2 separate regions of the Homo sapiens genome follow, and region 2 is linked to region 1. Evidence: fine-mapped expression QTL. A gene starts in region 1. The other region holds a variant in brackets. All regions are shown on one strand. Distances are from middle to middle.

Region 1 (8,334 bases):
CACCAATAAGATGCTTAAAGTTTTTATAAATGTCTCATTTACTCAACATTATATATACTGAATTGTTCATGTCAATTCCTTTGCCAGTGGTTTTTACTTAATCTTAAAAAAATTATCATATGATAAAATTAACACATTTACTTTGGATGAATAGTTCTGATTTTAATGTATGGTAGCATCACCACCATCAGAATACAGAACAGTTCCATCACTCCACAAAGATCTCTCCTGCTGTCCCCTTTATGTGTACATCCTTCCCCTCCTCTACTCTCAGCACCACTGAATTGGTCCCTATCACTATAGTTTTATAATCATCCCTTTTGAACCTGGCTTCTTTCACTCAGTATAAAACCTTAATTAAATATTCATGCAAGTTGTTACCTACACCAGCAATTCCTTCCTTATTATTGCTAAGTAGTATTCCATAGTATGGCTATACTGTAGTTTAACCATTCACTTATTAAAGGATACTTTGTTTCCACGTTTGGGCTATTATGAATTAAGCTGCTATGGACATTTGAGTACCAGTTTTTGCACAAACAAAAGTCTTCATTAGGAAAATACCCAGGAGTGGAATTGCTGGATCGTATGATAAATGTATGTTTAACTTTATAAGAAAGTGCCACTGTTTTCTGGAGTGGTGGTGCCATTCTGCATTCCCACAAGCAATGTGTAAGGATCCAGTTGCTCAGCATTCTTGCTAGCACTTGGTATTGCTCATATTTTTTTCTCTTTTAGCCATTCTAATAGGCATGTAGTGATATCATGGTTTTAAACGTTTTAACCACTTTATGGGTATCTTTTATTAAATGGTATACACTGTTTCAATCCCTTAAACAGAGAATGCTGAATATTAATTTTTATGACTCAAAATCATCCTTATAGAATAAACATTGTACTACCCTCAGGGACCAAGGAAGTACATAGGGTTGTTTTCCTTTTCTTAAAATAGCCCCAGAATTATGTTTGCTTTTTATAGCTTTTTAAATCTCTCTTGTCACTTCTTGCTATTAATGGTGCTCCTGCCTCTGGCAGACTCTCCTCTTCATCCTCTTCTCAAGCTGAGTTTAGAAAATAGATAACCAAGCTTGTTAGAATTACATATGAAAAGAGGCCAGTCCATGAGTGAGAGAGCTTAAAGGATTCTTCAGTGAGGAAAGCAAAAGCACCCCCCTACACCCGCCAACCCCCCACATCACTGTACCCAAACTTCCTGACATCTTGCTTGGTTGCTGAGAAATTTCTAGTAGCTAAATCTCTTAGGCACTTTTCAAAAAGGTAAGGTTGCCAGCTAAGAGACCACCAAGTAATTGAGTTATTACAATATTCATTTTGTGCAATTCGCACTATAATATGACCCTAGGTCAATAATTAAAAGCTTAGCAAAAGCAAAATACAGACAAAATTATCCCATTATCCCGTGTCCAGAAACCTAAGTGAAAAAGACGATCTTAAATGGAGCTTAAATCTAGTTTCCTAACACTGACACATTGGTCTGAATTCTGAGCACCTACTAGGTGTGCGAGGCATTCAAAGGGGTGCAAAGATAAAGAAACTGTAGAATTAAAAAGAACTCAACAGTTCTTTAAAGATACAGTGACCATATGCATACATACTGATTCTAATCCTAAGTAATATTCACAGTGTTCCCTTGAAAGTCGCTTGACTAGTTAAGTAGAGAGCTGTGCGGTTACCAAAGGCAAGTCAGTGCAGCTCATCCTGTCTTTTAAGTAGTCTTTTCCATCTCTGAACAAGACTAAACTATGAACACTTTTACGCTCTATTAGGGAGATGGATCGCTTCAGACAAATGGCAGCACCTTACTTCCCTGAGCGCCCCAGGCTCCGATTCAGAAATTAAAAGGCAGGCACTTCCTCTCACCCGAACTTCCCTGAGGAATGGCAGCTGTGTGTCTGCCAGGCGCAGGGGCCAATCGGGACTCTGCCGGCCGCCTCCACCCACGACTTAAACACCATCTCACCAATTGCAACCGGATCGTGGGTGGGACTTCCGCTATCATTTTAGGCTTAACTACCACCATCTCCTCGCGGGCAGTGGGGGCAACCGCGAAGACAGAATTTCACAAACTTTCAGCTCCAGCAGTTTCAAGGAAATGTCAAATGACAAGATGGAAGACCGAGTGTCAAGAGCTAAGACAACAAAAAGGCCCCCAAAATTTGTTTTCAAGAAAACCAATGAAAAAAGCAAGCAATCAGAACGTGAAGTCCAGGATCATGGATGTGCTTATCTTCACAGTCACTGCTGGGTCCTGAAGTTCTCCTCTGGCCCAGTGCCAGCTGCGAAGCCCTCTGCCAAAGGGCCAGAGGAGGCCGGTGATATAGAGCTCTGATTACCCACCCGTCAGGGCACCGCTGAAGGTCACTGAATACTTACTGTGCACCCGAAAAATAAATCCTGCGAGTTCACGCCCGCGTAGTTCGCCCCCTGATTTTGAGCGACTCCTTTCGCATGGGATCTACAAAACCGAACTGCCTTAAAGACCTCTTTCACACGGACGTGAAGTCACAGAACTGACAAAATCCCATCCTGTCAAAGTGCACGGGTCTTTGAAATCTAACACAAAAAGCCATAGAAAGATTCTCTAAACACCCTGTACTAAGAGGAACACGGACAGGGCACTGCGTTCTGAAGTAGAGGCCAGGGCACTGGCCCTTAGACACGTCTCGCTGTCACCGGGCTAACAACATTGGCAAGGGCGGCGGCAGCAGCACTGATATTTGCAGCCCCCAAGGGCTCTGGCGAAACCCCCTCTATTACTCTGTATCCTGCCTGCTTCCAAGATGAACCTGTTGCTGGGAAAGAACAGGCTAAATTAGAAAAGGGAGTATTTTGTCAAAGTTGAAGGTGAGTGATAGCCTGCCCGCCTCAAATAGGATGGGAAAAACTAAGGATATTGGGGATGATGACACTGTCGCCTCCGAATTCTGGTCCGGGGCTCTCTCCCAGCCCTCAAGTGTCCCCACGCGGCCGCGGACCCCGAACAGGGACAGCTGGAGACGGGCTTGGGCAGCGCGCGGCCTGCACCCGCGGCCATCCATCTTGCAGCCCGGCCCGGCCAGGCTATCCCGGGCAAGGGCTGGGGGAACTCGCTGCCCCCAGCGCCGCCACGGCCGGGCGACATTCTGCGCCCTGGGAAGGGGGATAGGGGTGCGGCGCGGCCCCGGTCCCCGGCCCGCCCGGATCCCCGGCCTCACCTTGACGTGGAAGCGGATGAGCGCCAGGCGGATGCAGTGGGCCATGCAGACGGGCGGCAGGAACCAGACCTTTGGCGGCGGGGTGCCCTTGTTCTGGACATGGCTGACGATCTGCTGTGCCGTCTGGCGCTCGTTGCCCTGCCGCTTGACCCACTCGTGCAGCCGGGCCTTCTCGAGCGCGCCGTTGAAGAAGACGAAGAGCTCGATGTTGCCGCCGAAGCAGGCCTTGGCCAGCGCCGCCAGGTAGCCAAGCATGTGGTTCCACTGGCCGCCGCTGACCCAGTCGGTGTAGAAGCCGCCGTAGAGGCGGTGCAGGCAGTTGTCGGCGTCCACCAGCAGGCGCAGCGGGGTCTGCGGGGGCCGCTGCCGCCCGCCGCCCACCAGGCTGCCCCGGGCCAGCTTCTGCAGCTCCACCGGCACCACGGCGCTCGGGCAGTGCTTCTCGATGTAGTCCTGGAAGCCCTGCACGCCCATGGCGGCGGCGGGGGCGCGGGCGCGGGTGCGGGCGGGGGGCGGCGGGGCCGGGGGTGGTGGGGCCGTGGCGCGCGGGCGGGCTGGCGGGCGGGGGCGGCGGCCTCTAGGGGGGACTGGGGCGGGTCGGGGGCGCGCTCATGGCCGCCGCGGCCGCCATGTGCTGCCGCCTCCCAGGGCCATGTCTGGGGAGGGACCTGCCGCCGCCGCCGCTGCCGCCGCTGCGAGGCCGAGGCCGAGGCCGAGGCTGAGGGCCGGGGCGGGGCGGGCGGGCGGCGCTGACGTAGCGGACCCGCCCGGCGCGGACGCCGCCCAGGCCCGCCGGCTAGCAGGCGGAAGAGGCGGCGCCGGCGGGACGCGGCTCGGGGCTCCCGGAGGCGGCGGCGGAGGCGGAGGCCCGGAGTTGGGCCGGGACGGGATCCGGGAGGCTTCTGAGCCGGAGCAGGCAGCGCCTGGAGGCCAGAGGCCGTTCGCCCGCCTCAGGCCGGTCGGCCGCCGCTCCCCTCCCCTGCGCCCTGTTCCCGGCAGGGCCAGAGAGGCCGCCGCCTCCGCCCGGTGGTTCTCGGGCGAAGGGAAGCCGCGAAGCAGGTCCTGGGGAAGAGCTCGCCTGCTCCTGAGGGAAGCAGCGATAAGATGGCGCTTTGAAGGGGAGCCGAGGCCGAGTCACTCTGTTCGTCGGGACGCCGCCTTTCTAACGCCGCCGTCGGCTCGCACCACTCTGGGCCTGCTGCCCACACTGACTGCGGGGTCCGGGAGAGCGGGATGCTGGCCGGCCGCGCCTGGCTTCTTGGAAAGAGCAGGAAGGAGCGCGAGAATGCAGTTCCGCGGCAGGTGCTCATCCCAGCAGCTTCGGGCTCTCGGTTGTGGTTTTTACACCTATGACAAATGACATGGCCAAACACACCATAATGTCTGAAGGTACAGGTAGCCCTAAGCGCCTGCTCGTCACGGAAGAGACTGTCTTGAGAGCACAGGTCTGTTGCAGCGTGGGAAAGCCTGCGTTACCACTGCGCAATGGCTAGACTGAAACGTGCGCCTTTGCAGTGGATCTCCCAGCTCTTCTGAGGGAGAGGGATTTGAATCTTGTTGCTTTAGTAGCATCTTCTGGAAGGAGGTCGTTTACGTAAATTCTGTTCCAAAGCTCTGTCGTAACTGCTTCTAAAATGAGGTTGATACTGTATGTATATTAGGCTTGCATAAAACATTTTCAAAAAGAGATTAATGTCTTTCAGAATATAAATTTAGAAACCCAGCACTCTAAAAGTTTTAAAGTGCCGCTTTTACTTACCTTCATCTCTCCATTTGTTCTTTTTTTGGAGAAACCTCTGTAGAGGAGCAGGATGCAACCGACAGGCTGTGGCCGGACAGCTGCTGCCCAGCACATGGAGCCTGCACGCGCACGGTTTGGCCAAAGAAGCCCCCATACTCCCGGTGAAAAAGGCAAGTTGGATTTTTCTGCTTTCTTTTCTGATACCCACCTCAAATGCAAGCCAGTATCATACGTACATAAATTAAATGCTGCTGGTATTTTAGGAAGTTACATTTAAAAGCAGGCTGACAAGTTATGCCACTCACCTATGCATAAAATTAGTCACAAAGCCAGGATGACATGTTATCTAAAAATAATACAGGCCAGGTGCGGTGGCTCACGCCTGTAATCCCAGCATTTTGGGAGGCCGAGGCGGGTGAATCATTTGAGATCAGGAGTTCGAGACCAGCCTGGCCAACATGGTGAAACCCCGTCTCTACTAAAAATGCAAAAATTAGGCGGGCCTGGTGGTGTGTGCGCCTGTAATCCCAGCTACTTGGGAGGCTGAGGCAGGAGAATTGGTTGAACCCGGGAGGCGGAGGTTGCAGTCAGCGGAGATGGCACCACTGCACTCTCTAGCCTGGGCAAAAAGCGAGATTCCGTCTCAAAAATAAATAAATAAATAAAAGAAATAATACAGTTAGCCATTAAATAACGAGCAAAATCCAGAAATATCCAAATTTGCTTTTATAACCCAAGGCAGGTTCACAAGGTGAGGAGTAGTAGTTTTTAATCACTCGTATTTTCATTTGTAGCATTGCATTCCGTGTATTTACCTTTTCTTTAAACACTCTTGCTTTTAATTTTTAAAAATGCATTAGTGCGGCCGGGCGTGGTGGCTCACGCCTGTAATCCCAGCACGTTGGGAGGCCGAGGCGGGCAGATCACGAGGTCAAGAGATGGAGACCATCCTAGCCAACATGGTAAAACCCCATCTCTACTAAAAACACAAAAATTAGCCGAGCGTGGTGGTGCGCACCTGTAGTCCCAGCTACTCGGGAGGCTGAGGCAGGAGAATTGCTTGAACCTGGGAGGTGGAGGTTGCAGTGATCACGCCACTGCACTCCAGACTGGCAACAGAGCGAGGCTCCATCTCAAAAAAAAAAAAAAAAAAAAATGCCAGTGCCAGTATCTGGAATTCTGGAAATAAATTTATTTTCACCTTATTATATTGTAGAGGTCTAAGGTTCTGGAGTCAGGCCCCCAATATCCATCTTATGATAAGTCTGTGCCCTTGCAAAAATATTTACCTTATTGAACCTTGGATTTTATCATCTGTAAAATCAACATATTAATAGTACTTAACCTCCCAGGTTGTTATAAGGATTAAATCAGATAACCTGTGTGCCTGCCACACAACAAATGCTCAATAAATGTTGGCTTTTGTAGTTATTTCCAGAAACTGTATTTGTCTAGACTTATACTCGAGAACATAGACCAGTTATTGTACTTTTGGAAAGTTTAAAATTCATTATTGTATCATAACACATAAAACTCAATTCTTAGTTGCCCTATTTAGCTTTGTGTTCTTTAAAAAAAAAAAAAAAAAACTTTATTTATTGAGTAGCTATTGATGGTGGGCAAAATGTTTAGCTGACAAACACTTATATACTCTGCATCCTTAACTCAAATTCAGGGGTTGGTTGAAGTTAAATTGCTTAAATATTGAGGTAAAAATAAACATCTGGGCCGGGCGCAGTGGCTCACGCCTGTAATCCCAGCACTTTGGGAGGCTGAGGTGGGCGGATCACAAGGTCAGGAAATCCAGACCATCCTGGCTAACACGGTGAAACTCCGTCTCTACTAAAAAAAATACAAAAAAAAATTAGCCGGGCGTGGTGGCAGGCGCCTATAGTCCCAGCTACTCAGGAGGCTGAGGCAGGAGAATGGCGTGAACCCAGGAGGCGGAGCTTGCAGTGAGCCGAGATCACGCCACTGCATTCTAGCCTGGGCAACAGAGCGAGACTCCATCTTAAAAATAAAAAATAAAAAATAAACATCTGTATTTAAAATTTAATAAAAAGTTATGTCTTCTTGGAGGTTACAATATGACAACTAATGGTTGGGGACTTTTTCTTTTTTTATTTTGTATTTATTTTATTTATTTTTTCTCCCCCAAGATGGAGTCTTGCTCTGTTGCCCAGGCTGGAGTACAATGATGTGTTCTCAGCTCACTGCAACCTCCCTCTCCCAGGTTCAAGTGATCTCCTGCCTCAGCCTCTGGAGTAGCTGGGATTACAGGTACACACCATCACACCTGGCTAAGTTTTGTATTTTTAGTAGAGACGGGGTTTCACCATGTTGGCCAGGCCAGTCTCGAACTCCTGACTTCAAGTGATCCACTTGCCTCTGCCTCCCAAAGTGCAGGGATTACAGGCATGAGCTACCGCGCCCAGCCTAATATCATTAATTAATATTTTACTTAGGTGAGGTATCTAACCACCAACAATAACAGATGAGTTTCCAGTTTTTCAAACAAGGTAATAAGAGACCTTAATGCTGCCCATGTAATCATTAGCAGATGTTGGGAGACCAGCAGACTGGAGCTAAGCAGGGAGTCTGCGATCATGGAAGAGAGCAAATTAATCCACACTAGGGATTCTAACCTATAATGTTTACCTAGCACCAGCCCTGTTAATTAATTGTCAATTTAAATTACCCAGAAGAACACACACATCTGTAGGCCTGCTTCATAAATGGTAGATCAGTAACTGACCACACTGCAGCCGTGTATCGGCAGTTGAGTTTTTTGGTCTTCAGGCTCTGCTATCTCTCCAGTACTATGAGTTATCAGCAGTAGCAGAGGGTAGGAGAGCTCCACAGAGATCAATATTCGGACTCTGGAGACCATGACAAAATACATTTCATATTCCAAACTAATATATAAACTACCTTTTTTTTTTTCTTTTCAGATTTCCAGAAGCTGTTCTGTCAATAACAAAGTCTCAAAGAAAACCACAAAACCACCAACACTAAGATCATTCTTGAGTCCAATTTGAAAAACTAGGGTCAAGTTCTGCAGAGGCATTGAAAGGACAAGAAACCACCCTGATACCCATCGTGTGAGGGAAAATGCTCTATTCACCATTCCTCAGCTTCTGCTTCTGGTTTCAGAGTTCTCTCTATATTGGAGGGTGTTTTAAAGCTAGAGTGGTCTTTATCCACTTTTATTAACACATCTGAATGTGAAGGTCAAGAGAGGAAAGTGATATGTCCTAAGTCAGAGTAGAGTCAACAAGAAAATAAGACAAACAGCGACTGAGCCCCTGGTGTATACTGGGCATTGGCCAGCTACTGGGGATATGGAGATGAAGAAAACATAACCCTTCTTCAAGGAGC
Region 2 (8,334 bases), 190 kb before region 1:
AATGGAAAACTAATCTACAGATTCCACATAATCCCTATCAAAATCCCAGCTGACTTCTTTGCAGAAATTGACAAACTAAACTTGGAATGCTGAATAAAAATGCAAAGCACTCAGATGACCAAAACAGTCTTTTAAAAGAACAATGCTGGAAGACCCTTCCCAACCTCAAAATTCAATACGAAGCTCCTACAGTCAAGACGGTGGTACTGTCATAAGAAAAGATATACAGAGGAATGGAATACACTTAAGTGCCCAGAAATAAATCCTTAACACCCACAATCAACTGCTTTTCAAGGAGAGTGCCAAAACAGTTCAATGGGGAGAGGCCAGTCTTTTCAATAAATGTTGCTAGGAAAAGTTGATATCCATATGCAAAAGAATAAAGTTCTTCCTACCTCAGATAGTATACAAAAATTCAATCAAAATGAGTCAAAGACCTAAATATAAAAGCTTAAACTATGAAACTCACAGAAGAAAACAAAGGCATAAATCTTCAAGATCTTGGATTAGGCAATGATTTATCAGCAGTGATACCAAAAGCACAAGCAATAAAAGGAAAAAAGAGGTAAGTTAGACTTCACTAAAATTAAAAACTTTTGTGCTTCAAATGACGCTGTCAAGAAACTACAAAGACAACACAGAATGGCAGAAAGTGTCTGGTAAGGACAAGTATCTAGAATATGTAAAGAATTCTTACAACTCAAAAATAAAACAACAGATAACCCAATGAATTTAAGGTGGCTAAAATAATGTGGAATTGTTCTTCTGGTTTCAGCTCCAACATGTGAAGAGTTTGGATGTTGTCACTCCCCTCTTCCCCACAAGAAAAAGGCTGAACAAACAGAAAATCAACAACTTTTCTTATATTCATCAGAGAATTGAGCTCATAGGGCAAACAACCAACCACCCAAAATCTGAGGAGACAGAAAATCATAGCTGAGATCGCCTTACCTGAAGCGGAAGCTGCTGGAGGCAGTGACCTGTAGGAACACTTAAGTGATAACTTTTGTCAAACTGCCAAAAGTTAAGTGTAGATCAGTTTAAGAGTTAAAAACTCCTTAATCCGGCAGAAGGATGGAAATAGAATCTATTTTTAAATACATCCAGAGTGTTGTTCTCCATAACAAAAGTCTGCTCCCCTGTATCAGACTCTACTGGACATGGGGAAAGCATTTGGCGACCTCCAGCCCCCACTAACCTTCCTGTCTCAGATAAGGAGAGAAAAATTAAAAAGGCTGAGAAATGCTCCTAATGATCACAGCCCAGAGACTCTACAAAACTGAGATTTAATCCTGAAATTATAGAACACTTCCCCTCCCCAAAACCTACCACCATACATCAGTATAATAATAGCTGACTATAACTGAGAGAGCTGCAGACACAGACTCTGTTTAACATGAAATTCTTAGGAAAACCCAAAGAAACCAGGAGAAAAACAAACAAACAAACTAGAAGAAGCTGACATCTCTGGCACCTAGAGCTATAGCAAATTTAACACAGCCCAGGTCCTACTCAGATTAACATAAAACCTCACACTAAATCCTAATTACCTCAATTCCTATTACACAATACATCGTGTCCAGCTTTCACAAGAAATTTTAAGCCTGCTAAATGGCAAGAAAAACTGTAGTCTGAAGAGACAAAGCAAGCATCCGAAGAAGACTCAGACATAGCACAGATTTCCGAATTATCAGACAGGAAATTTAAAATAACTAGGATTAGTATGTTAGCTACACTAATGGGAAAAGCTGACAACATGTAAGAACATATGGGTAATGTAAACAGAGAAATGGAAATTAAGACAGAGTCAAAAGGAAAGGCTAGAAATTAAAAAACAATAATAAAAGTAGCAAAAATGAAGGATGCCTTTGATGGGCTCATCAGTAGACTAGACATGGCCAAGAAAAGAACCAGTAAGCTTGAAGTTATATCAATAAAAACTTCCAACCTGAAATCCAAGCAGAACAAAGAAGCATGTGGGTGGGGGTCAAGGGGAGGCGCAGAATATCCAAGAAATGTAGAAGAAGAACTACAAACAGCCTAATGTGCATATTGAGAATATAAAAAGGAAGAGAAAATGCAGTAGAATAAATATTTATTTGAATTAATAATGGCTGAGAATTTTCTAAAATTAATGGCAGACATGAAACCAAAGATCCAAAAAGCTTAGACCACATAAAGGAGGATAAATGCCAAAAATTCTGCACCTAGGCATATCATATTTGAACTGCAAAAAAAACCAAAGACCAAGCAACTATCTTGAAAGAAGGCAGATGAGCGAGGTCAACTTCCAGCATGACAATGAAATGCTGAAAATTATTTAAAAAACAATTATTCAGAGCCTCTGGAAATGGTCCCAAGACCAAACAGCAAATGAAGAAACATCTATTTAAGAAAATCTCCAAAAACTCAGTAAGAACAGTCTGTGATATTTGGACCAAGACTGCTCCCTCCATTCACATTCAGAGCTCAGAGGTGGACACTCCACTCCCAAGTGCTGCAGCCAAAAACACAGGCTTCGTCCCCACCGGCTCCCAGCTAGAGAGCTTTCTTCTTGGGAGAGCAGGACTTCCACTTCTCATTCTGCCCCAGCTGCCTGTTGCTGAGTTTACGTCTGCAGCAAGTAATGCCAAGAGGTGGGGGCTGCCTTCTTGCATCCAGCTCTGACTAGTGAAACTGAAGCTCTCCCTTGGGTGTGGCATGCTGATAGTGCTGAGGGGGGCCCTGACCACCCTCACCTTGCCACTTCTATTCAAGGTGATATTGGAGGTTCTTGGGAGAGCAATTAGGTAAGAAAAATAAATACAGGTCACCTAGATGGGAAAGGAATAAGTCATACTATCTCAATTTGCAAATGACATGGTCATATGTATATATAAAATACTAAGGAACCCTCTAAAAAAAAACTATTAGAACTAATAAACTAGTTCAGCAGGGTTGCAAGATACAAGATCAACATATAAAAATCAATTGTATTTCTACACACTATCAATGAACAATCTGAAAATTAAGAAAACGATTCTATTGACAAAAGCACCAAAAAGAATAAAATACTTCAGAATATATTTAACAGAGGAAATGTAAAACTTATACTCTGAAAACTATAAATAATTCTTGAAAGAAACTTAAAAGATCAAAATAAATGGAAAAGTAACCATGTTCACAGCTTAGAGGTTTTAACACTGTTAAGATGGAAATACCTGCAGAGTGATCTACAGATTGAAAGCAATTACTTTCAAAATCCCAGCTGACTTCCTTGTAAAAACTGACAAGCTGACCTTAAAATTCAAATGACATACAAGGGACCTAGAATGATCAAAACAAACTTGAAAAAGAAAAACAAACTTGGCCAGGCATGGTGGCTCACGCTTGTAATCCCAGCACTTTGGGAGGCCGAGGTGGGCAGATCACAAGGTCAGGAGTTTGAGACCATCCTGGCCAACATGGTGAAACCCTGTCTCTACTAAAACTACAAAAAATTAGCCAGACGTGGTAGTGCACGCCTGTAGTCCCAGCTACTTAGGAGGCTGAGGCAGAAGAATCACTTGAACCCGGGAGGTGGAGGTTGCAGTAAGCCAAGATCGTGCTACTGTACTCCAGCCTGGGTGACAGAGTGAGACTCCGTCTCAAAAAAAAGAAAAGAACAAACTTGGAAGACTTATACTTCCTGATTTCAAAACTTACTATAAATTACTATAGTAATTAAGACTGTGTGGTACTGGCATAAGCAGAGATATAGATTAGTGGAATAGAATTGAATATCAGAAACAAACACATCTATGGCCAATTGAGTTTGATAAGGGTGCCAAGACTGTTTACTAGCAAAAGAATAGTTTTTTCAACCAATGGTACTGGGACAAATGAAGAGCTGCATGCAAAAAAAATGAAGTTCAATCCTTACCTCACACCATATACAAAAATAAGCTCAAAATGTATCAAAGAACAAACTGTATGTGCTAAAACTACAAAACTCTTAGAAGAAAATATATCAATAAATCTTCATGACTTTGGATTTGGCAATGGATTCTCAGATATGCAACAAAAGCACAACAAAAAATAGATTAATTGGACTTTATCAAAATTAAAAACTTTTCTACTTCAAATGGCACTATCAAGAAAGTAAAAAGACAACCCACAGAATAGGAGAGAGTATTTTGAAATCATATATCAGGTAATGGGGCTTGTATCTAGAATGTACTATATATGAAACTTTTAAACTCAATAACAAAAAAAAAAGCAAAAAAATTAAAAATGGGCAAAGGACCTGAATAGTCATTTTTCCAAGGAAGATATACAAGGATCGACAAGCTCATGAAAAGATGCTCAACATCACTAATCACTAGAGAAATGAAAATCAAAAAATAAGATACCAGTTCATACCCACTCGCATGGCTAGAATCAAGTTAAGTCAGATAATAACAAGTTCTAGTGAGGATGTGAAGAAATCGAGACCCTCATACCCTGCTGGTGGGAAGGTAAAACGGGGAACCTGCTTTGGAAGACAGTCTGACAGTTCTTCAAACAGTTAAACAGAGAGTTACCATATGACCCAGCAATTCCACTCCTAAAACAATAAAAGCATATGTCCACATAAAAACTTGTATAAAAATGTTTATGGCACAATTATTCATAGTAGACAAAAAGTGGAAACAACGCAAATGACCATCACCTGATGAATGGATAGACAGAGTACCTATGTGGATATCTATACGATGAAATATCATTCAGCCTCAAAAAAGGAGTGAGGTGCTAACACATGCCACAGCACAGACGACCCTTGAACACACTCTGCTAAATGAAAGAGGCCAGTCTTGTTGTAGAACTCCATTTATATGAAGCAAATCTACAGAAACAAGAAAGTGGATTAGTAGTTGCTAAAGACAGCTGGGAGGGGGGATGAGAAGACAGGGATGATGTATAAAGGTTATGGGATTTATTTTGGGGGTGATGAAAATGTCCCAAAATCAGTGATGTGCACATATCTGTGAATACAGTAAAATCCACCGAACTGCACACTTTAAATGGGTGAACTGTATTATTTGTATTTTATCTCAATAAAGGTCAGAAAAGAAAAAATAAAGAAGCCAGGAAAAAAACACCTTACCCAGAGAAGGGTCAGAACAAGAGTTCCATTGGATTTTGCATTAGAAATCACACATGCAAGAAGGGAGTTGGAATTTAAAATGTCAAAAGAAAAAAAA[C/AC]CCACCAACTTAGGATTCTGCGTCCAGCGGAATTATCCTTCAAAAGTGAGGGAGAAATAAAGGCTGTGTGACAAACAGAAACTGACTCCAGCTCATGAACGGCTGCAGGGCAGCTCAGAGGTGCCTCCCCTAAACAGCTCCTTTCTCACCAGGAGCCGCTCCCGGCTGTGTCCTTCCTGTGGCCAAGAATTCTGTCCTCTGCCCTCATGCAGAAAAAGAGTGTGGGCACTGGGGGTCTCTGAGAAGGAGACATGAGGACAACGCCTGCCTGGGCCATGGGAGCATGCTTGTGGGCAGAGGAAGGACTGGGAGCCAAGGGCTCAGGAGAGTACCTGGCATGTGCTGGGCATACTCAGGTTGGGAGAGAGGTCCCTTCCACCCAGCGGGAGAAAGGTCACCAATACTTGTCCCCCACCCCCAGGGAAGTGCTGACCAAGGGAAGGAGAGGTTGGCCCATTTGCAGGGAGCTTTGGGTTGCTGGTGCAGGCTATGCTGCCTCCAGGAGACAGGCTTCCTGCTTCCTGCTTTCCAGCAAGGATAGCAAAGGAAGCCCCCAGCAATGGATAGCGGGACAAGGGACGGAGAGAGTGTGCATCCCCTGGCTGCAGGTGGTGGAGCATACAGGAAGGCCAGCCCACCTGGGAAAGGTCCGGCTCCGCAGCTCCTTGATGAAGAGCTGGCTGCCATTCTGCACGGGCTTGACGTCAGGCGCTTGCCCCGGGCCGTGTTTGTGCCAGGTCCGCTTCTTCTTTACTGTGGAGGAGACCGGAAGCAAGGTCGGTCACACAGCGCAGCCCCAGCAGGGCTCCACAACTTCCCCTAAGAACCTTGGCCCACCCAGCCTACTAACAACTCCCAGCATTGCTGGGCTCATGCTCACCTCTCAAGACTGATGACACCCCCACCCTGCCATGCACATAGGGAGGAGTCAACCCCCTACCTCGACCTCGTGTCCTCTCCCATCCCACACCTCACCATGGATGGCACCAGTGTCCTCCATTCCCTGACCCAGAAGCTGGGGTCTCCCAGGACCCCTCCTCATTCAGGCCCTGAGTCTGCAGAGACCACCAGAGAGCCACCTCCTGAAAAGGTCCTCAGCCACGGTTTGGCCTCACCATCCCATGGCTTCCACAGCTGGACTCTGTCACTTCCCTACTGGGACCTCCATCACCCCAACTGCCACAGCCACAGACAGGGGCAGGTCAGGTCCCACCATCTTGTTCCGTCTCCTCCCCACCTCCCCAGGTGGTGCACATCCCCACTCCTCTGTGCTGGCCACACTCCAGCCCTCCCCTGACCACCGCCAACCCTGGGCCTGTCTACCCCACCTACTTCCTCACACTGCCCAGGTCACACCTTCTCCTGGGGCACGAGGTACACACACCTTGGACTTTTTACATGTGCATGTGAGCACATGTGCACACATTCCTAGTGGACTATGCGCCCATGCAACAATGCAGGCACACACATATGTACATATACATGCACACACCCCTACTGGACCACAAGCCCTATGCGCACACACACACCTCTACTGGACTTCAAGTCCCTAAGGGGAGGGAAGCAATTTCCTCTCCACCCCGCTAAGTCCCTAGCTCCCAGCCTTGTATTCAACCAGGCAGAGAAGAGCAGCTGGGGTAAGGGAGGCCACTGGGGCCTGGAGATGCCCTCCTCGGGGGCTGCTTGGCTGAGTCTGACACAGGCTGACCCTTGAGCAGTGAAGGGACTGAATTCAAGAGCAGAGCCAGGCAGGGCCCGTATTGTGCCCTTCCTTCACAGACAAAGGCAAGGTGGGGGGCGCAGGGGATGGGGGCCTTAGAAGGCCATGTGTCATCCTCCTGAGTCTCGGTGGTTGTGGGGACAAAGGGAGCTAATGACCACCCAGTGACAATGCCTGTCTCTGAGCAGGATCTGCTACCAACACGAAGGAGAAGGGCTGGGTGGGGCTGGGACCTTTTATTTGCAAAGAATCTTCGCATTGTGTTCAATCTCCCTGCCCACAATTCAAGTGGACATTATGGAAACTTGGCAAAATCCGACAGAGTCAAGGCCAGAAGCCAGGACTTCTGAGGGAAGCATCGGGCACAGATGAGCAACAAACAGGGTTCAAATCTGTTTTGGCCAATCCTCTTCCAGCTGTGTGACCTTGGGCAAATTACTTGACAGCTCTGTGCCTCGTCTTTACTAGAGAAAGGCTCACACGGGCCTTGTGGGGTGGCTGTGGGATGTAGGTTGGCACATGCACACTGTCTGCTCCAGACTCTGCTGGGCCTTTTCTCAGGGCAAAGCCACCTGGTGCGGTAGGTGCTTGTTCACGGGCAGAACACACTCACAGGCTGGCTTGGTGCTCCTAACAGACCCTGGGCTCATCCCTGTGTGTCCCCTATGCCCAGTACTGGGCCCAGCACACAGTGGGCACAGGGGGAGTGTCTGCGAGCAGATGAAGTCTCCCATCCTTGTCACACTGGCTGCTCAGCTTCAGAGCAACTTGGAAGGAGAGGTGGATGCATCTGCCTTCATAACTATCAACAGAGAAGGCTCAGTTCAGCCCATGCTCCTGCCCTCTTGGTGCCAGCCTGAGCCAGGCAATGCCAGGGCCATAGATAGCTCCAACCTGCCCTCCTGTTGCAGTTTGCAAGCACTCACTGAGTATCTTGGCTCCGTGCAAGGCTGGGGGTGCTGGAGCAGGTGTTACCCAAGCGATAGATGCTTGGGAGCCCCTGCTTCTTAAGAGCTGAGATGGGAAGGGGGCCAAGGCCGGCCCTAGAGGTGTGTGTGCTGAGATGTTCAGCCCAGAGGGTAAAGGAGTTGGAAAAAAGACACCCCCAGTGACAGCCCAGACCCTCCTGACCCCCCAACAATCCTAAGCCTCAGTGACTGTGAATACCATCACCCTCCTGCTGGGCCTGCTACTACCTGGGGAGGTGTGGATATCAAGGGAGCAAGGGGCTCCAGAGTTCACAAAGTGCCTTCCCTGCCTTGGAAGGCCTTGTGGAAATGGAGGCAGTTATATCTACTCCATGGGGGAGCCAAGTGGGACCTAGGGAGGAAACTTCCAGAGCTGAGCTTTCTGCACCAAGCAGAGCTCCCTGCCTGCCCTTAGGTCACCACCTGCGAGGAACACCGAGTGTGG

What was found. PIP is the estimated chance that this variant, and not a neighbour inherited with it, causes the effect. A credible set is the group of variants that fine-mapping cannot tell apart.
Region 2: its variant is the best candidate, but not a certain one, in a credible set for the expression of FAM120A in whole blood (TOPMed, PIP 0.52).

Annotation. Positions count from the first base shown.
Region 1 is chr9:93,447,271-93,455,604 of GRCh38, reverse strand. It overlaps FAM120A (family with sequence similarity 120 member A), which reads right to left and starts at 3,920. Exons shown (of 18, transcript NM_014612.5): 1 at 3,216-3,920. The coding sequence starts at 3,689. FAM120AOS (family with sequence similarity 120 member A opposite strand) reads left to right here and starts at 2,024. Exons shown (of 3, transcript NM_198841.4): 1 at 2,024-3,458; 2 at 5,006-5,126; 3 at 7,908-8,334. The coding sequence starts at 2,896. The coding sequence ends at 7,994. RefSeq lists enhancers at 1,824-2,118, 2,182-2,311, 3,891-4,440 and silencers at 3,031-3,210, 3,511-3,640, 3,781-4,310.
Region 2 is chr9:93,634,031-93,642,364 of GRCh38, reverse strand. PHF2 (PHD finger protein 2) reads right to left here. Exons shown (of 22, transcript NM_005392.4): 3 at 5,840-5,954. Among named protein-coding and RNA genes, the nearest start is that of MIR548AU, 43 kb to the right of the region's middle. RefSeq lists an enhancer at 6,168-6,897. The variant C/AC (reference allele first, on the strand shown) is at 5,202.